Linked DNA regions of Homo sapiens: region 2 is linked to region 1. Evidence: fine-mapped expression QTL. Tissue or cell type: whole blood. Region 1 holds a variant in brackets; the other region holds the start of a gene. All regions are shown on one strand. Distances are from middle to middle.

Region 1 (8,337 bases):
GTTTTGTGGCAAGAAGTTAAGGGAATCCTGCATAATGAAGGAATTCATTCTGTGAAGTCATAGAGGCCACACATGTCTTGTTTAGACAGGATTTAAATAAAGTTGATGTCTCAAGGGGTAGTTTTACCAAATTATATGTAATTCATATGTCATTGTACTCACCATTATATAACTCAATGCAATTAATTTTTATAGTAAATTCTTGTGGCAGAAGTTCTTTACTGATTTGTTGCTGAAAATTAGCTATCTCAAAATGTTTCCAATACGTTATTTATCAGTCTCACTCTGTGTCTCCCCTCTACCACCTCACCATCATGCCCCAGCTTGTTTTGTTTTGTTTTTAAAAGTTTTCTTCATACATGTTCTGGAACAAGTTCCTGTGGTTTGTTCATTCCGGCCTCCTTATCTTGCCATCCCGTTGCATCCTGTGTTGCTGGTGAGGCCTTGAGTCCTCTGCTCTGTGAAACACAGCTTCTTCTAATAGATATTCCTACCGACACACTCTCATTGGTTTTGGGGAGGTACCACCCCATTTTGCTTCTAAGGTCAGTCCTTGCTCCTGGCTAGTTAAGTGCCAGATTTTGGATACACCATCTCCTTCCACACTTTGAAGGTAATGTTCTCATACTGGGGTGCACCAAATGGTGGAGCTCCAGAAATCAGCCACTCTTCTGAGTTACTAGTCTGGTGCTGCTAGTTCACTTGTTTCCTGAGTTAGCCCCCTTTACCTACTGGAATGCATCTGGTCTTCTTTATGCTCCAGAGTTTGGTACCAATGCATTCTGCCCTCAGAGAGGAGCCCATTTTTATCCCAGGATGAACTAATTCTTTGGGGTACTAATAATTGCAACATTCATTCTTTCAGAAACGATGAGACATGCTGTAGTAAATTAAGCTGCCCCAGAGAAAACAAGCTTTTTATTTATATACCCATAAACATCAAACCCTATGTTCCAAACCTGCTAATTTGTTTAATGGGACTCCCTGGACTCATCACTAAATTTGGGAGCACATTTTTCTTTTATTCTCCTGAAGCTCTTGTTCTCTCTAGCCTTCTTAACAATCTGTTTAAGGCTGGCATTGTCATCTCTGCCCCTCATAATGTTCCTTTAATAGTACTTCTGCCATAATAGTATTGTGACCTAACCATTGAATCTAACTTGCTGCAGAATGTATTATCATTATTGTAAGGTATTTATCTTTTTAAAAATGGAAAACTATTTATTAATTTAAAATTCTGAGATTTCAAATACATACTTGTTATTTGTGAGAAAGTGGCTGTGTTTGGAAGGGCCAATACAACAAGTTGAGGACATTGTGAGAGTTTCATTTACATTAACTAATGGATAAAAATGGCCTTGAAAGACTCACAAAGAGGGCAGGAGAGAGAGTAACAGGTTCTGTACCAAGTTTTTTCACAATCTCTTCCTTTTAATCATTACATATTGTCTTCCTTTGGCAGGTGAGGAAATCGAGCTGATAGAAGTTAAGTAACTTGCACAAAATAACATGGCTACTAAGTTTCTGAGCCAAGCTTAAACTCACATCTTATTAATTCCAGAGCAAGTGCTCTAGATAAACTAGTTTTTCTTCAACATGATAGATATTAGCACTTGTTGATAAAAACATCTTCAATGTTATCTAACTTCAGATGTAGTCAGCAGCAAAATCACTAATGCTATGCAACCAAATTAGGGAAATTTTTTTTTGCAGAAATCAATCTTTATTTAAAAATGTTATAGTTTGTGAACCCAAAGTAAATTCAAAGTTCTTTTTTTTTTTTTTTTTTTTTTTTGAGACGGAGTTTTAATTTTGTTGCTCAGGCTGGAGTGCAATGGCGTGATCTCGGCTCACCGCAACCTCCGCCTCCCAGGTTCAAGTGATTCTCCTGCCTCAGCCTCCCGAGTAGCTGGGATTACAGGCATGCACCACCACGCCCAGCTAATTTTGTATTTCAATTTTAGTAGAGATGGGGTTTCTCCATTGTTGGTCAAGCTGGTCTCGAACTCCCAACCTCAGGTTATCTGCCCGCCTTGGCCTCCCAAATTGCTGGGAGTACAGGCGTGAGCCACCGCGCCTGGCCTCGAAGTTCATGCTTTAAATCATAATCTAGTGAAGAGATTTCTATTTTTATGTTTTTGCAATAAGTAATTAGGCTTTCTGGAATATGCTAAAGACTGGAATAAAGAAGAGTAGATGATTTTTAAGAGGGTCTCATCAACAAGAATTCTGTGAACCACACACAAGAAATCAACTTTACCCAGTGCCTATATGGAGTCTTTTGTGTCCAATTGTAACAAACAATTTGAACTTGAAAGAATGATTTTTTTTTTTTTAAAGAAACTACTAAAGCTTAAAGAGGACAAAGCCATGAAAGCACAGAAAAGATGACAGGGTCTGTGTGTGGGGTTACAAGCCAGGAAAACCTTGTATTGGTAAGACTGCTAACAGATTGCTCAGGCTCCTAACTTAGGCTTGACTTGGCTAAGCTTCAGTGTGAGTGGGAGCCTAACTCTTTCCAGTAGTCTGATTTCACCTAGTTCATTTTGTGTTGAACTCTCATAATATGTAATAAATGTGAGTACATTTTTAGTACTAGTATATATAGTATAGTAGACATCAAAATATCTAGAATATTTGAGTAAATACAAATATTTATTGTGTTCATTCAATTTTGAGAAACTTCTGTAGTTCACCTGTGTAGTCAACCTACCCAAGTGTCTATTTGATAGATGTCTAGAAGGGTTTATCACCTACAGTACCAGATTTTCAGGCTCTCCATAGTCGACTGTGTCCTCTGCACATCAAGGTAGAGGTACTAACTCCTTACTCCTGAGCTTGATTATAAGCAATGGTTCAGGAAGGTATCTAGTAGAAGAAATGGTCTTTCAAACTAGTGTTTAACAAAAAATTCTACAATTTCATATATATTAATATGTATTTGGTGAAATAGAAACAAGCCCAAACTGTTACCAAGACAAATCCCTTTTTCTTTCCATGAAACCTTTTTTTTTTTTTTGGCTGCTCGGTGCTGCTTGTTATTATTTTTCATTTTCAGCATGTATCTGATGATCATGCCAGCCTGATTGCACCAGTTAGAGTGTGGCTGCCCTTGACCTGATTGGATCCATGTGGCATTCCTTTAAGGAGCCTTAGAGTTGACCTTCCTCATTCTCCTGGCTATAATACATCATTTCCACCCTCTGTTTTGGGGCATCTCCTACTGTGGAGAGGCTGGCAGGAGGGAGTACCTACTAACCAGTATGGAGACCAAATGGGTGGGATATCCTCTCCTCTTTGGAACAGTCAGTGGTAATTATGACATACCTTGTTTACCACCTGCACTTTTCTGAAACTTTCAAGTAGAGGCTGCTCCAGGAGTGGCAAGCAGACCAGTTTGCTCTTGCCATATAAACTTTTCTGTGATTCCTACTTTCTTGGGGCTCCATTCCTCCCACCAGTTCCCCAAGACTGGCCTTCTAGCCTTTCATTAATGCTGTTATCTTTCCAATAAATTTTCTTATGGATTAAGGTAGCCAGAGCCTGTTTCTTTTGTTTTTGATCTATAGCCCTGACTGATACATGATCTTAACCATAATGTGTTCTGAGATAATAAATGTTTAAATCATCTGGGTATCAATATTTTATAATATTTTAGGTATAATATTATCTAATAATCCTTGGCCCAGATAGTTTTTATACTGAAAGCTGGTATAAAAATATAAATTCATTTCACTGATGCACAAACACAAAACCACACATAATTTCACAGAAAGGTCATGTGACCTACTTCTAAGAAAAGATTATAATCTGAGATAGGAAAATG[C/T]ACCTGCTGCAAAAAATAAAAAAAAAATTTCATGCAAATAAGACAGGGCAAAAATGAGTTAAAAATTGGGCAAGTGTACAATGACTAGCTGTTTTCTTAAATAAGATTGCTCTTTTCTTTCCCAAAAGATGGAATGAAGGGGTTAATAGAATTTAGAACAGATACTTTGAAGAAAAGAAGTAATTCTCTATCCTACGATGGAAATAAGTACAATTCTATAGGAATCTGATTGACTGGTTTCATCTTCAATTCCTATAGATTGAGTTGAAGGAATACAAGATACAGCACAAAAAAGAATTATAAAAACCATATTCAACTCAGTACTGTGAATTTATGGAAAAGAGAAGCCATAAAATGTGTCCAACTAGTGCTCTCATTATTTAAGTTAAATTTGGTGCCTTCATTGTAAATAATAAAAAGTTTATTATTACCCATATCCATGTATTGTTCAAATTCCTCATTTATTGTGACACTAGGTTTTTTTTCTCCCTGTTGCGGTTTTAGAAGATACTACTTGGCATCATCAGACTTTTGATAAAGTGATGAGTCCCAAAGCTTGATTGGAATGGTTTCAAGAAAGGATTGGAGAAGAAAATTTGAAAACCATGAGTATAGGCAAATCTAGTAAGATGCTTTACTATACAGGGAGAGAGAGAAAGAGGGTGGTTGCTGAATAAAATTTTTTTGTTTTGTTCTTTTAAGATGGGAGAAGTAATAGATTGTTTGTATGCTGATGAAAAAGAACTGGTGGAGAGGGGAAAACTGTAGAAAAAAAATGCTAAAATGATGCCCTTGAGTAGGCAAGAGGAGTTGAGATTTAGTATAAATTGGAGTTAGTTTTAGACAAATGCATATAGAGTTGACTCACAATGATGGAGAAGAGGCAAGATATACAAGTGCAGATGAGGTTGTTAAAAGGGTCTAGATATTGCATACCTTTTGATGGGAGCTTGCATATCTTCCAGTTGCTTATATTTTCTTACTGAAATAGGAAGCACAGTGTCAGAGAGACATAAAGATGGAGGGGGTGTCAGATGTTTAATAGGAGACAAAAGTATTTAATAGAATTTGAGGTATATGCATGAGTGAATGGATCAGGGATGTATAATATATTTGCCATTGAAGATAAAGATCATGGATATAAAGCAACGCTGGCCAGTATGGTTATGGGATTTTCTCCAGACACATTCAACCACACAGGTAAAAGGACAGAGTAGGTGGAGCTCTGTGATTTACCAAGCTCTGTGATTACCAAGCTCATGATTTTCCCAAGTGAGCATAATGAAGCACAAGAGAGTCATGGTAGTTTGAGGTATAAAGATATGGCTGAATGCAATAAACAACCATGACATTTAAGCTGGATAAGAATGGAAATGAGGACATGAGGAGGGAAGGTATATTGAAAAGGTGGTTGTACAATGGATTGTAGATGTCAGGGGCCAAGCTGAGCTGGAGAGAGCTGTGCTGTGCTACCATGCTTCAGAATAGCTGATTATGACAATAAACCACAATGAAATAGTGCTCTAACATTTAATCACTCACTGTGATAGTATAAGCAAGAAGCTAAACCAGAGAAAGTTCTGACCACTGTCTCTACCACTTCCCACTTCCACCCCACCCATGCACCACCTCTGTCCATTTTACCCGTGAAACAGTACTGGATATCTGAGGGTCAAGTGAATCAATACATGTGGGGAATTGCTTTACTGCTGAGGGAGTCTTGAACAAAAGTCTCCTTTAGTTTTATATACTAGGGGCCCAGGGAAAAGGGTGAAAAGGAAGGGGTAGGAGTAAAAAATTATTGAGCTAGAGTGGAGAAAAGTGTCTTCAAGGTTCCCCTTCAGCTCCTCCAAATGATAAGTTCTTAGCAGAGGTTCCTGAAGGCCTTCTTGCTGAGCTAAGAACACGGATATGCATAAGAGCATGGCCAGCCCTGGGGGCTTGAGTCTGTGACTGCAACTCCTTTCAGCAATGCACTAGCTGCACACCAAGTCTGGTATGAGGAAGGTAGTTCAGGTCTGCCAGGAAAAGTCTTTGTAACTGCCTGGGGTTAGGCCTGAAAGATCACAGTAGGTTTTTAGCCAAAACCCAGATTCCTCAGTAGACCCTGATGCAGCTTAAAGATTGTTGGACACAGAATGGGAGTTAGAAAAATTAGGAAATGAGATGCTTGTGATTGAGATCTGCAGAAAGTCCAGATATTGGTAGTGACAAGATCTAGGGTCTGGTAATGAAAATGAATAGTCCTAATAAAGTGGAGACAATCATTTAAGACAAAAGGCAAGATCATATCTGTGGATATTGAAATCTCAAATAGTTATGACAAGAATAACACTGGAAGGAGAAATGGTGACCTACCCTTTCAGTGCTAAGATTTAAAAATTAATCTCGTATGTCTTTTTTTCTATGAGAAATAATTTATGAAAACTCTATTGATTTCAAATCAATAAAAATGATGGATTTGTTTCAGAAAAAAATTGTTTATAACTTGTAAGATCTGTAACTTAATTGTTTTCTCTTACTGGTAAGGGCATGTTCATGCTAACAGTAGCCCTATAGCTGTGGTTACTTATCTTAATTACAGCCAAGATTTATTTCAGCTTGAGTGTTTTATAAGCAGATTAGAATTTTAAAATTTTCACAGCCAGTCTTCTTGCATTATACTCTTTTTAAATTCAAGCATGTTTCATATTATAAGAAGCTAACCTTAAATTATAGCCCTTGTTTTGTTAAATATTCAGTATTCTAGGAATTTGAAATTCTCAAATGTAGTCTTTAAAACTCTGAGTTTATCTGATAAGGATTTTATTATTATTGTTATTTACATATGAATACAGGAACAAAATGTGATTTAAGTAAGTCATGGCCTAGAAAGGGATTTGTAATGTCTTGGCCCTATTTAAGAACTTTTACCCATGCCTCATGTTCTAGGATTTCTACTTGATCCAGCTTGGAAATCTGAATAACTCATGATATTGGGAAATTTCCATGGCTGCATTTTCTTCAGTTCCTTGCTTGTAGCTCACCTTTGTCTCCTGTTTTTCTTGTAGGTTTCCAGTATATGCTTTGGCCATATAAAGTAATAAAGCAAATAAGTTCCTATCGTTTAATCATATAGAAAAGCCCAGCAAGAATCCATTGTCCAAATCTTGTTTGATTAAGATTGATTGACAGTTTTATGTAATTGGATGACATTTTTAAGAGAAAATCAACAGAACATTATCACATGGTTAAAGCCTACTGCCAGAAACAATAAACTTGGCTTACCTATTTCGTTAGAGTATTATTTTGATTTATTCACTCATGTATATAATTCACTTTCACAGTTGATCCCAGACTCTGTTTTTATGAATGGCAACTCAGAGAATTTAGGTAGCTTTTCTGGGAGCAAGGTTGATGGCATTGGTGTGGGTTGGGGAAAGCCTAACAGTATTAAAAGGGAGAATGATATAGAGGTTGTTCATCCCATGTTCAGTTACCGATGTGTTTTCACCAAAACCATATAATTTAAATGTCTCCTTTTCCTGGAAAATATGAAGCATTGTACAACAGGTAATTTTAATAACAATGTAACTTAGGCTGCTTATGATTGACATCAACATCACATGTATATAATATGATTGTAAGAATTTTTAAAAATGCATCATTGGGATAATAAACTGTAACTGACATCCTTTTAAACTAAAAGCAGGTGAAAGCTTGCCAGTGTTCCACTCTCTCTGACTTACCATTCTAAGAATAAACACATACAGTGGAGTGTGCGGGGCTGCACACTGTGGTTTTATCTACTTCCTTGCTAGAGGAAAGCACTGTTATAAAAACAAGTAAAACATGCAAAGGGAAGTAATTTAATAAGTAATTTTACAATAAAAGAATGGAACTATAAACCTGCTTTTCTTGGACAGCCTTGGTGTTATCCAATTTGCCCTCTTACTGAGCCTCTCTACTGGCTGGCTGTAAAGGACATGGTGAATTAGGATCAGAAGTCGATGGCTGTGTAGTGCCTGGTTTTGAAATGTTTGGAGAACAACATAAGTAGTAGCTGATGGCAAGGCAGAGGGACGCAGGGTTGAGTGGGCACTGCAGATGCCAGGATGACCCAGTTTAAGTGGGTGTAAGCAGTGAAGTAAGCAACAAAGTTGGGCAAGCACTGAAGGTGTAGTTTGTGTAGGAGACAGATGTCAGGGCTGGGGTGGGGAAAGGGAGTATCTGTACCACAGAATTACAGCCTGGGTCAGTTAGTGCCTTGCACTGATGTTTGTGTATATTTTGTCCCCTCAGCTAGATTTTATTACTCTTTGGGGGTGGTATCCTTGTTTATAATTGTTCCCTTGAGCTGCTGGGCACAGTTATGGAACAAGGTGGGTTGTTGCATGAGGATCTCTTGGAAAGTTCTCCTGGGGCTTTCTGGCCCCTTGAGGATGGTATAAATGCTAGTAGGACCAGGCACACTCTCTGTCTTATCAGACACATGGAAAAGGGCACAGAGGAAATGATCTGTTTTAGAATCA
Region 2 (8,718 bases), 150 kb before region 1:
GCATTACTCTAGTGCATAGCCACTGACTCTTCTGAGGTCATTGCCATGGCAATTGTAGCCACACCTTTATGTTTCCATAGACAGGCCACGCCCTTTCCTTGGCATTTAATCTGGTCGCCCTCCCAGGGGACCTCTTGGTGATTACCTGTCCTGCTGGCTGTCACTCCTGACTAACTTCCAGGCCTCCTATAGCCCAAAGGAACCACAGCCTCTTCCTCATCACTTAGGCAACAAAATCCCAGGGATCATTAGCCCTTTAGGATCTAGATAAGGCATGCTAGCATTTATATTCCCACTTTACACCCTTGCCTTCTTGATACTCCAAGGGGAAAACAGTACAAGTATTTACTCTTGGGTCCTCTTTACAGAAGGGAGAAATTTATATCCAAACTTCACCCCCAGACCCTTTCTGGAGTTTGTTGTAGTGCACATTTGTTATGGGCTGAATCTTGTCCCCCTCAAATTCATATGTTGAAGCCTTAGCACCCAGTATCTCAGAATATGACTGCATTTGGAGATAGGGCCTTTAAAAGACAATTAGATTAAAAGAGGCCATTAGGGCAGGCCCTAATCCAATCTGACTGGTGTCCTTATAAGAGGAGGAAATTTAGACGCACACAGACACCAGGGCTGCAAATGCACACAGGAAAGACCACCTGAGGACACAGCGAGACAGCAACATTTGCAAGCCAAGGAGACAGGCCTCAGAAACCAAACCTGCCTATTCCTCAGCCTTTGACTTACAGCCTCCTGAACTGTGAGAAATACATTTCTATTGTTTAAGCCACCAAACCTGTTGGTAAGAGGTTATGGCATCCCTAGTGGACGAATACAGCATTCCCCACATTATAACTCTCTCCCCTCCTTCTAAGAGCTCAGTCTTCATTTCCTACTACAGCTTATTTAGGACTCATTGGAGCAGGAGCTGGTGAAGAGGGAGCTAGTTCTCTGCATTCACATATGTCCCCCACCCCAACCCATTTTTTGGCTTGTACATACCGGGCATTTTGAAGGTTTTAAGAATCTGGAGTCTTTATTTCATTTGTTCAAATAACAATGACTGGGGGAAGACAAAAGCAATATAAAGTGTTAAGTTCCAGGTCTCAAATAAATATGTCATATAACATCCCATTGTAACTGTGTGTGTGCATGCTCATATTTTTCTGGGAAATGAGTCCACAGCTCTCCTCAAATTCTCCAATGGATTTATGACTGCAAAAATGTTAAGATTCACCACCCTATTATATTTGAAATGTGACTCATTTTCAAATATATGATTTACATACAATTTTACAAATATAACCACTATGCAAAGCGCAAGAGCCACGAATATTTATTTTCAATCAATGTAAAATTCTAGCACACTCATTTGTTTTATTTTAAAAATCTCTTATTTAATTTGCCATGAAAAAAGAAGCTAAAGTAAACTGTCTGTGAAAAACTTGATTTCTTTCTCATACTCACCCAGCCCCATGCCGAGAGATCATAAAATCATACTGCTACTTATACTGGGAACAGCTATCTTCGAGCACTACCAACAGTAAGAGGCATTCCATCTTATTCAATATTCAAACATGCATATGCATTAATACACCATAGACATTATTGCTTTTTTAATATTTCTTTTTCCTACTTTCTTTTGTCTTTTGTGTCAATGTTGATGAAACAACCAGGAATAGGAGATAGTAGTGGTCAGGAATGACCTGTATTCCTTCCCTCATTTTGGGAATTTTCATCCTTTTTCTTCTTCTTCAGCCTCCCACTATAATCTACCTAATTACTACAGTAGGTATGAAAATGTCACTTGATTACCATCCCTGGCCAAGGTTGTTGGCTGGGGTTTGGTAGCTGGAAGAATCACAGTACTTGGAGAATTTGGAACTGGTTCACAAGTTATAAAGTTTAAGAGTCGTTAGCCACCATGCAATTTAGTGCACACCAGAGAAGCAGAGAGTGAGACAATGTATGTGGGGAGAGAGAGAAAGAGGGAGAGAGATACAGAATGGGACAGTTAATGTAGTGGGGGAAAAGAGACAGAGAAAGTTCTAATGGCCTGTCTGTTTCCAGTCATTCCTAGTGCCCAGTTGCATTCTTGTTTTGGGGTTCCATGGGGCAGCCAAGTATCTTTACAATAATTTATCCTTTTTACTTTAGTTCTTATTTCTAACAACATCCCCCTTAATTTAAATACACACAGACATACACACACAATATACACACAAGAGATGATGCTAATGTATACATAACAAAGTTTCTGTAATTTTTAAGTTTTTAAAAATTGAGATGAAAACAAGGACTTACTTTACAAGTTATTGTTAACATAACTGAGTAAGCATTAAAAAACCTATATGATGCTTGGTGCTATATTCTAGAAGAGATTTTGAATAGTGAAGGATCATAAAAGTAGATATGATGTCATATTAATCTCACCTGAGATAAAAATCTAGAGGAACAATGAATCTATGGAGAGAGTGTAGGCTGCTTCACTGCAAAGGCGAGTGTGACACCAACCCTGTAGATCCTGGCTTGATTTTATTGCTTTAGACAGCAAGGTAACTACAGGGAATCACCTTTGACTTCTGGCCCTACAAAGATATTTCAAAAGGAAATGAAAAATATTTTGTCCTTCATTGGCAAATGGAGTTATGTTTTGGGGGTACAAGTCAGCAAAAGTTCAAGGTTTGTAAAAGTGAATGCTGAATGAGTTTATTAAACCACGGAAGCATCTGAATCCTCCAGGCTTATTCAAGGAAAAAGCCACCAAATAACTAAAAAAGGTAAATATCAGGATGATTGATGGATTTTTAAAAATGCCTTGTGGTACATGCATCTGATGGCATCCTGATTCATATTCTCTCTTTTCTGAGAATTCAAACTTCCTACGTGATGTACACAAGTAAGTCACATATTCTTCAGCCGCCCTGTAAAAGGACTTTGTCAGCATGGTCCATGTCTGGACTTTAATTATAATAGGGTCCTCTAAGCATCTCACTTTAAACGTCCATTTCCATAGAATCAGTAACTGCATTTATTTTACAACTCAGTCTTTTAGGAGGTATGGTTTGGTATTTCTGGCATTGCTGCTGTAGTCTTCATAAACACACACACGCACAGACACACACACACACACACTCTTCCACTTAGAGGACAGATATGTTAACCATATTTCCAATTTAGTAGCAAAGCTCTGACATCCTAATGTCCTGATATTATTTCAATCTCTCTCTATTGTGAGAAAAATCAGAAACTGCCCAGTGAGAAAGTTGTATCATCTTTCCAGCAGATCTCTATGAACACGGCTTACCCATTGCTTGGAGATGGGTGTGTTCAGTGCTGCCCCATGGAGGAGAAATCTAACTGTGTGAAGGCTTCTCAAAGCTGATCCACATCTTGACAGGGATTATTTGTTCCTCACTCTCCTATCTCTCTGCATTCAGCTCACTTGGGGTAGAGGCTGAGCATAGGAGAAAAAGCTTGAAGAGAAGCAAAAGGAAGGGCTTCGGGGGCGCCAAGCAGTTTCTGGCCTATAGTGTTTATTATTTGATTCTATAAACATTTATTGAAACTACAGAATATTAGGTATTGTCCCAAGCTCTGGGAGCAGAGTGATGAAAAAAATAAATGAAACGAACAAACAACTCCCCCCACCAAACAAAACAAAACAAAACAAAACAAAACAAACCCAAAGTCCCTGTCCTCATTGGCAAGGCTTATAATGTGGTGGTCAAAGGTTTGAGGAGTGAAAGGATGCCTAGATGCGGGCAGTGACAGCAGGGGTGACAGCTGGGGGTACATACAGCTTCCTGGTTTGTGAAACTGTTAAGCCCCGACTTAACCCAAATTGATTTCACTGTCCTGACTTTGAGATTCCAGTCTTTTTGCATGGCAAATGTAACACTTGTGTACAAGCATTCGTACACTGCTTTACTTAAAATGTGATTTTAAAGCGCCCTCAGGGAGAAGGGCTGGGGTGTCTTGATGGGCTGGCTCTGGGCACCTTTACCTTTGAACGGCTCCATCAAAACCTTTCCGAGAGAGCCGCCAGGTGGCACCTGTAAAGCGCAGATGGGGAGAGTCATTTGCCCCACACCCTACACAGCCCGGAATAACCAGGGTGCGTGCTTTCCCCTGTGGGCTTGTTAGGGGCTAGGAAGTGGGGGAGTTTTAGTCTCCGTCCAGACTGCTTGCTTACATACCCCGTTTTCCTGATACCCCAACACATTCAGGGCGGATTTGTCCCCACGCACCCGGGATATCAAAGGCATGTCATACGCTAGTTGGGAGCATCTCGGCCTCAGTCACCCGCCGCGACGTGGGAACTGGCGGTGGGTGGCCGAGGGCTGCTCTAAGCTGGTCTCCTCAGCCCGACCTCTGCCCGGGGCAAGGGGGAGGAGGGGCAAGAGACAGGGGTCCCAGCGCGGCTGCAGACTGGGGTCCAGCAGGCGTGAATGGATGCCTAGACGCAGGCAGTGACAGCAGGGATCCCAAGCCCCTTCCAAAAACCCTCGGTCTAGGGACTGCGCTGCCATAGGCCGGGGTCTGGGGCGCTTTCTTCCTCCCGCGGGTTCTTTCTCTGTGGTTTCTCCTGCCCCCGCAGCAGCGTGGCGGCCTCGGGTCCCCCCTCGTCGCGGTAGCGGTGATCCCACAGCCCAGTCTGGGTGGGCGACCCAGCGGGCAGAGGGGCCGCAGAAAGGGGTCGGGGTACGGGGTGTGAGCACACGGAGCCAGCGTGGTAATTTCGGGGTGGGCAGCCGGGCCACCATCTCCGCTCTATCAGTAGCGGGAAGCGAGCAGCGCCAGTTGCGCGACTGTCGCTGCCACGGCCGCCTCTACTCGGTCGCTGGTGACATTGGGAGGAGACCGCTTGGAGAGAGCAGAGGAGGAGGAAGAGGAGCGGGGAGGGTGGGGGTTGGGGTGGAAGAAAGTAGCAATTGTGCCAGGGGGCGTGTGAGCAGCCGGAGAGCCAGCCGCGCTGGTGACAACTTCTCTGGGGCGCGCGCGGGGCTGGTAGGCGAGGAGCGAGCAGGGAGCGCGGCCGAAGCCAGAGGCTGGGGGAGCTGCTGGAGCCTCGCGAAGCCGCGGCCGGCGCCCTGCGCCGTCGCCGCCGCCTGCTAGTTTCCTCCGGGTTCTCAGCCCCGGGTACTGAGGCTTCGGTCTATAAATAGCAGGTTACAGCTCCTCCTGGGCGCGCACACGCTCACACGCTCGCAAGCGAACGCAGGAAAGTCAGGCTAAAAGTGTCTGCTGCTGCTGCCGCCCCCCACTCCGCCTCCGGGAGAGGTAATTACCCGCCTGGGATCCTAGGGCTCGGTGGGGGAATTTTGCAGGGTGGGGTGGTTGATGGTGGGTAATCCGGGAGGCGAGGGAGCGTGTCTGAGAGCGTGGCGGCACGTCTTGGAGGGGGGAGCCTGTCTGTTTTGCATCAAGTTTCTCCGTCTTGCAGCCTCCATCACCCCTCCAGCTCTTTAGCTTAAAGGGTGGGGTGGGCTGTCTCTCCTCGGCTGCTGGGGTACCCCTGTCACCGCGCCTACCCTCTCGCCGAGCGCCCCTCTGCCCGGCGCGCGCGCGTTTTCGCATTCTCACTCACACACGCACACTCTCCGGGCCCCCGTGGAACTCTGAGCTCTGGCCTCGCTGACCTTCCAAGGCTGCGCCCACCTGCGCTGTCCCTGAGAGACGCTGAGGTTGGCCCGGGCACTCGCTCTCACTTCCAATCCTGATGATCGCAAGCTGCCGCCGCCGCCGCCGCCGCCGCCGCCGGCCTGGGAAGAAGTCCTTAAGGAATAGAGGCAGTGGTGGGGAGTGAGGGTGACTGATGTTGGTGGTCCCGGTTGCCTTGTTTTTTGTTTTAAAAATAAAGAGCCCATCTCCTTGACCACCTTCATCCCACCCTCAACAACTCATTCTGGCAGAGAAGCCTGGCATGTCTTCTCTCGGCCATCAGGCAGCATCTCTTGTCCTTCCCCAAAGAGGTCTCGCTGAGAGGTTAGGGCCTTGGCGCAAGAGTGCCTGGGTTTGGACGGGGGAGGTCATTGTTTCGGGTCTGAGAACTATGCTGCAGGCTCCTCAAGCTCTCTGGCGCTCAGGCAGGGCCCAGGGCCGGGGAATGTCTGGGAGCCTGGTTCCTGAATGTAGTTTCAGGCTGGTAGCTGATATGAAGATGAGGATGCTAGAACCACATATACCTGTTTTTCCCCCTCCCCACGCTTCTGAATTCTCCCTTCCTTGGGGGCAGTAGTTTCTGCTCCTGGGGAGTCGGTGGAGAGGGGCCCAGCAGTTTCTCTTTGGGGACAAGAGGGTGAGGAAGCACATATTGATTAGGTTGTTGCTGCTGCTGCACAAAACTTACTGGAAAAACCCGGTAGGGTTTTCTATTACTCTTGTTTTAAGGATGTAAATTTACTCCTTTTCCTCTTTTATCTTCTCCCTAACCAGAACTAGTTTTCCTTTCTCTTTCTGGAATGTTATTTGAGGTCATTATATTTTATGACTCCAGATGTTACATTTTGCATATCTCCTTCCTGTCAGTATGACAGACAGAACTTGTTTATAAAGGTGTGGCTCTGTAAGTAAAAGCCTAAAGACAGAGGATAAATTCATCTTCTCTCTCTCAAGATGAGCTCCAGATAGTTCTTTTATAGGTGTACAACTACATTTCAAAGACCTTGCTTGAAAAAGGACTTTTCTTAATGAGTTCTGGACCAGAAATGGTAGTAATCTGACTCAATGATAAAGCAGCGCATAAGGTGCAAGGAATCATCAACAGGGCAGCTGGCTGATGATGTGTAAGAAGTTGAGTAAAGCAAGGACTGGGCAAGTGGGCATTGTCAGTTCACATACTATGCACAGAAATGCATCCTCTCCTTTACGCATTGATGCACATACATGCATTATGTGTTCCTTTGTGATATAATCCTGTAAAGCATTGATAGGAAATGATCAATAGTTTTGTGAAAGGTACATGGGCATTGAAGGTTGAACCTCGTGAATTTGTAGTAATGTAAAATGCTATTGCAAAATGGATTGCTTTTTCAGTGTATTTCCTTAAAATGTGATGTAGAAGATTGTCCTTGAAAGGTTATGAAATGTGTGTGTGAAGATAGGCTAAATGCTCAGTGACATTAAGAAACATGTTTGCAGATTGAAATACTGCTCTTATTCTAGGAGAGTATTCTCTTTGATTAAGCAAATCAATATTTATTTGTGATAAAATAATGATCACTATGATGTGCATATTTATAACTCAAATTTGCTTTTGACTCTTTATAAAGTGTAAGAACAACCAGATAGACCATTTAGTCTTGTCCCTCTATTTAAAGTAGCATGCAGTCAAAGGTATAGGCAGAAAATACTTTTAAAATGTTGTGTTTGAGCTTCAGTTTGGGGCTGCAAATTGAATGACTTCATGTCTCATAAGATTTTTGTCAAAATACTAAATCGCTCTACTATCATAGACCATCAGTTAAACTTGATTATAAAATAATGCTATTATATTTTAGTTGTGTGAAATGGAAAATCATTAAGCTTAGGGAAAAGCCAGATATTTGTTCTAAATTGTGCAAATTGAAAGTAATTAATTCCTTTCTGAAACCTTGGAGCATCTTCTAGTATAAGTACTATAAATCCCCAGATGGGTAACAAAGTTAACTTTCACTACCTTGAGGGAGAACCCAAGATGACAATTCTCTGAAAGACAGAAAAAAAACCTGCTAACTGATCTTAAAACTCATAGCAACCAAATGAGTGGCAGTTTCTAGGTAAGTATTTGACATCTGAGAACAAAAAGTTAAGAAATTATGGAATCATAATTAGTGAGTAAAATGCTTACTGAATATCTATTACATTTTCTTATTTCATACTGAGTGATGCCCAGTAGTACTAATATTAGATATACAAATATCATACCTAATCTGTACAAAATAAATTTTTGTCTTTCACAACTATGGGGATTTTAATAGATAGAAATGCCCTGTTTTAAATAATCTCAAGTTAAATGTTCAGGTGAAAGCTGTGTGAGTCTCTTCTGTATTATGTACCTTAGTTTTTCAACATGTCCTGTATATCTTTCTAAAGCCTTAAGGAATCTTTTCCATAGGCCACTTTGTTAATACTTTTAAAAAATGTTGAGCTAGAAACCTTTGATTAGAGAGCTCTTTAGAGCATACTCTAATCATATATACTATAATATTTAGGCTTCAGAAATGAGATTATTAAATAATTTTAGTTTAAACATTTATTTTTAGATGAATCCAAGTGATGATGCTATGATTGAATTTTGTTGTGCAAGATACATGTAGTCTTTGTGTTCTAAAACTTTAGAGCAGTATATACCTAGAAAAGATCAGTATATACCTAGAAAAGACATTAAGATATGTGCAAAAATTTTAATTACTCTTTCAGTCTCAGGCACAATGGTCACTTGAATCAAACTGTGTTAGTTTATTTTTTTAAATATATTTTCACTACCTTGTAGATTAAAAGAAACATTTAAAATGTTTAGGAAATTTTATGGACTACATTATATATAATTTATATATGTATATTTATATATATCCAGTATATTATATATAGTATATATATTATTATATATAAATATATAATAATCATATATATTTATATATATCATTATTTATATATATTTTGATATATATGATATATAAATTTATATATATCATACATATTTATATATAATTATATATTTATATATCAGTATATTAT

The links.
Region 2: it holds the start of INPP4B, and the variant in region 1 is fine-mapped to the expression of INPP4B in whole blood (TOPMed, PIP above 0.99).

What each region holds. Positions count from the first base shown.
Region 1 is chr4:142,696,189-142,704,525 of GRCh38, reverse strand. The region is part of intron 2 of INPP4B (inositol polyphosphate-4-phosphatase type II B); the gene reads left to right. Among named protein-coding and RNA genes, the nearest start is that of INPP4B, 150 kb to the left of the region's middle. The variant C/T (reference allele first, on the strand shown) is at 3,827.
Region 2 is chr4:142,842,771-142,851,488 of GRCh38, reverse strand. INPP4B (inositol polyphosphate-4-phosphatase type II B) reads left to right here and starts at 5,188. Exons shown (of 26, transcript NM_001101669.3): 1 at 5,188-5,280. The region is part of intron 3 of USP38-DT (USP38 divergent transcript); the gene reads left to right. It overlaps LOC124900788 (a long non-coding RNA gene), which reads right to left and starts at 15. Exons shown (of 2, transcript XR_007058286.1): 1 at 1-15. RefSeq lists an enhancer at 3,845-4,431.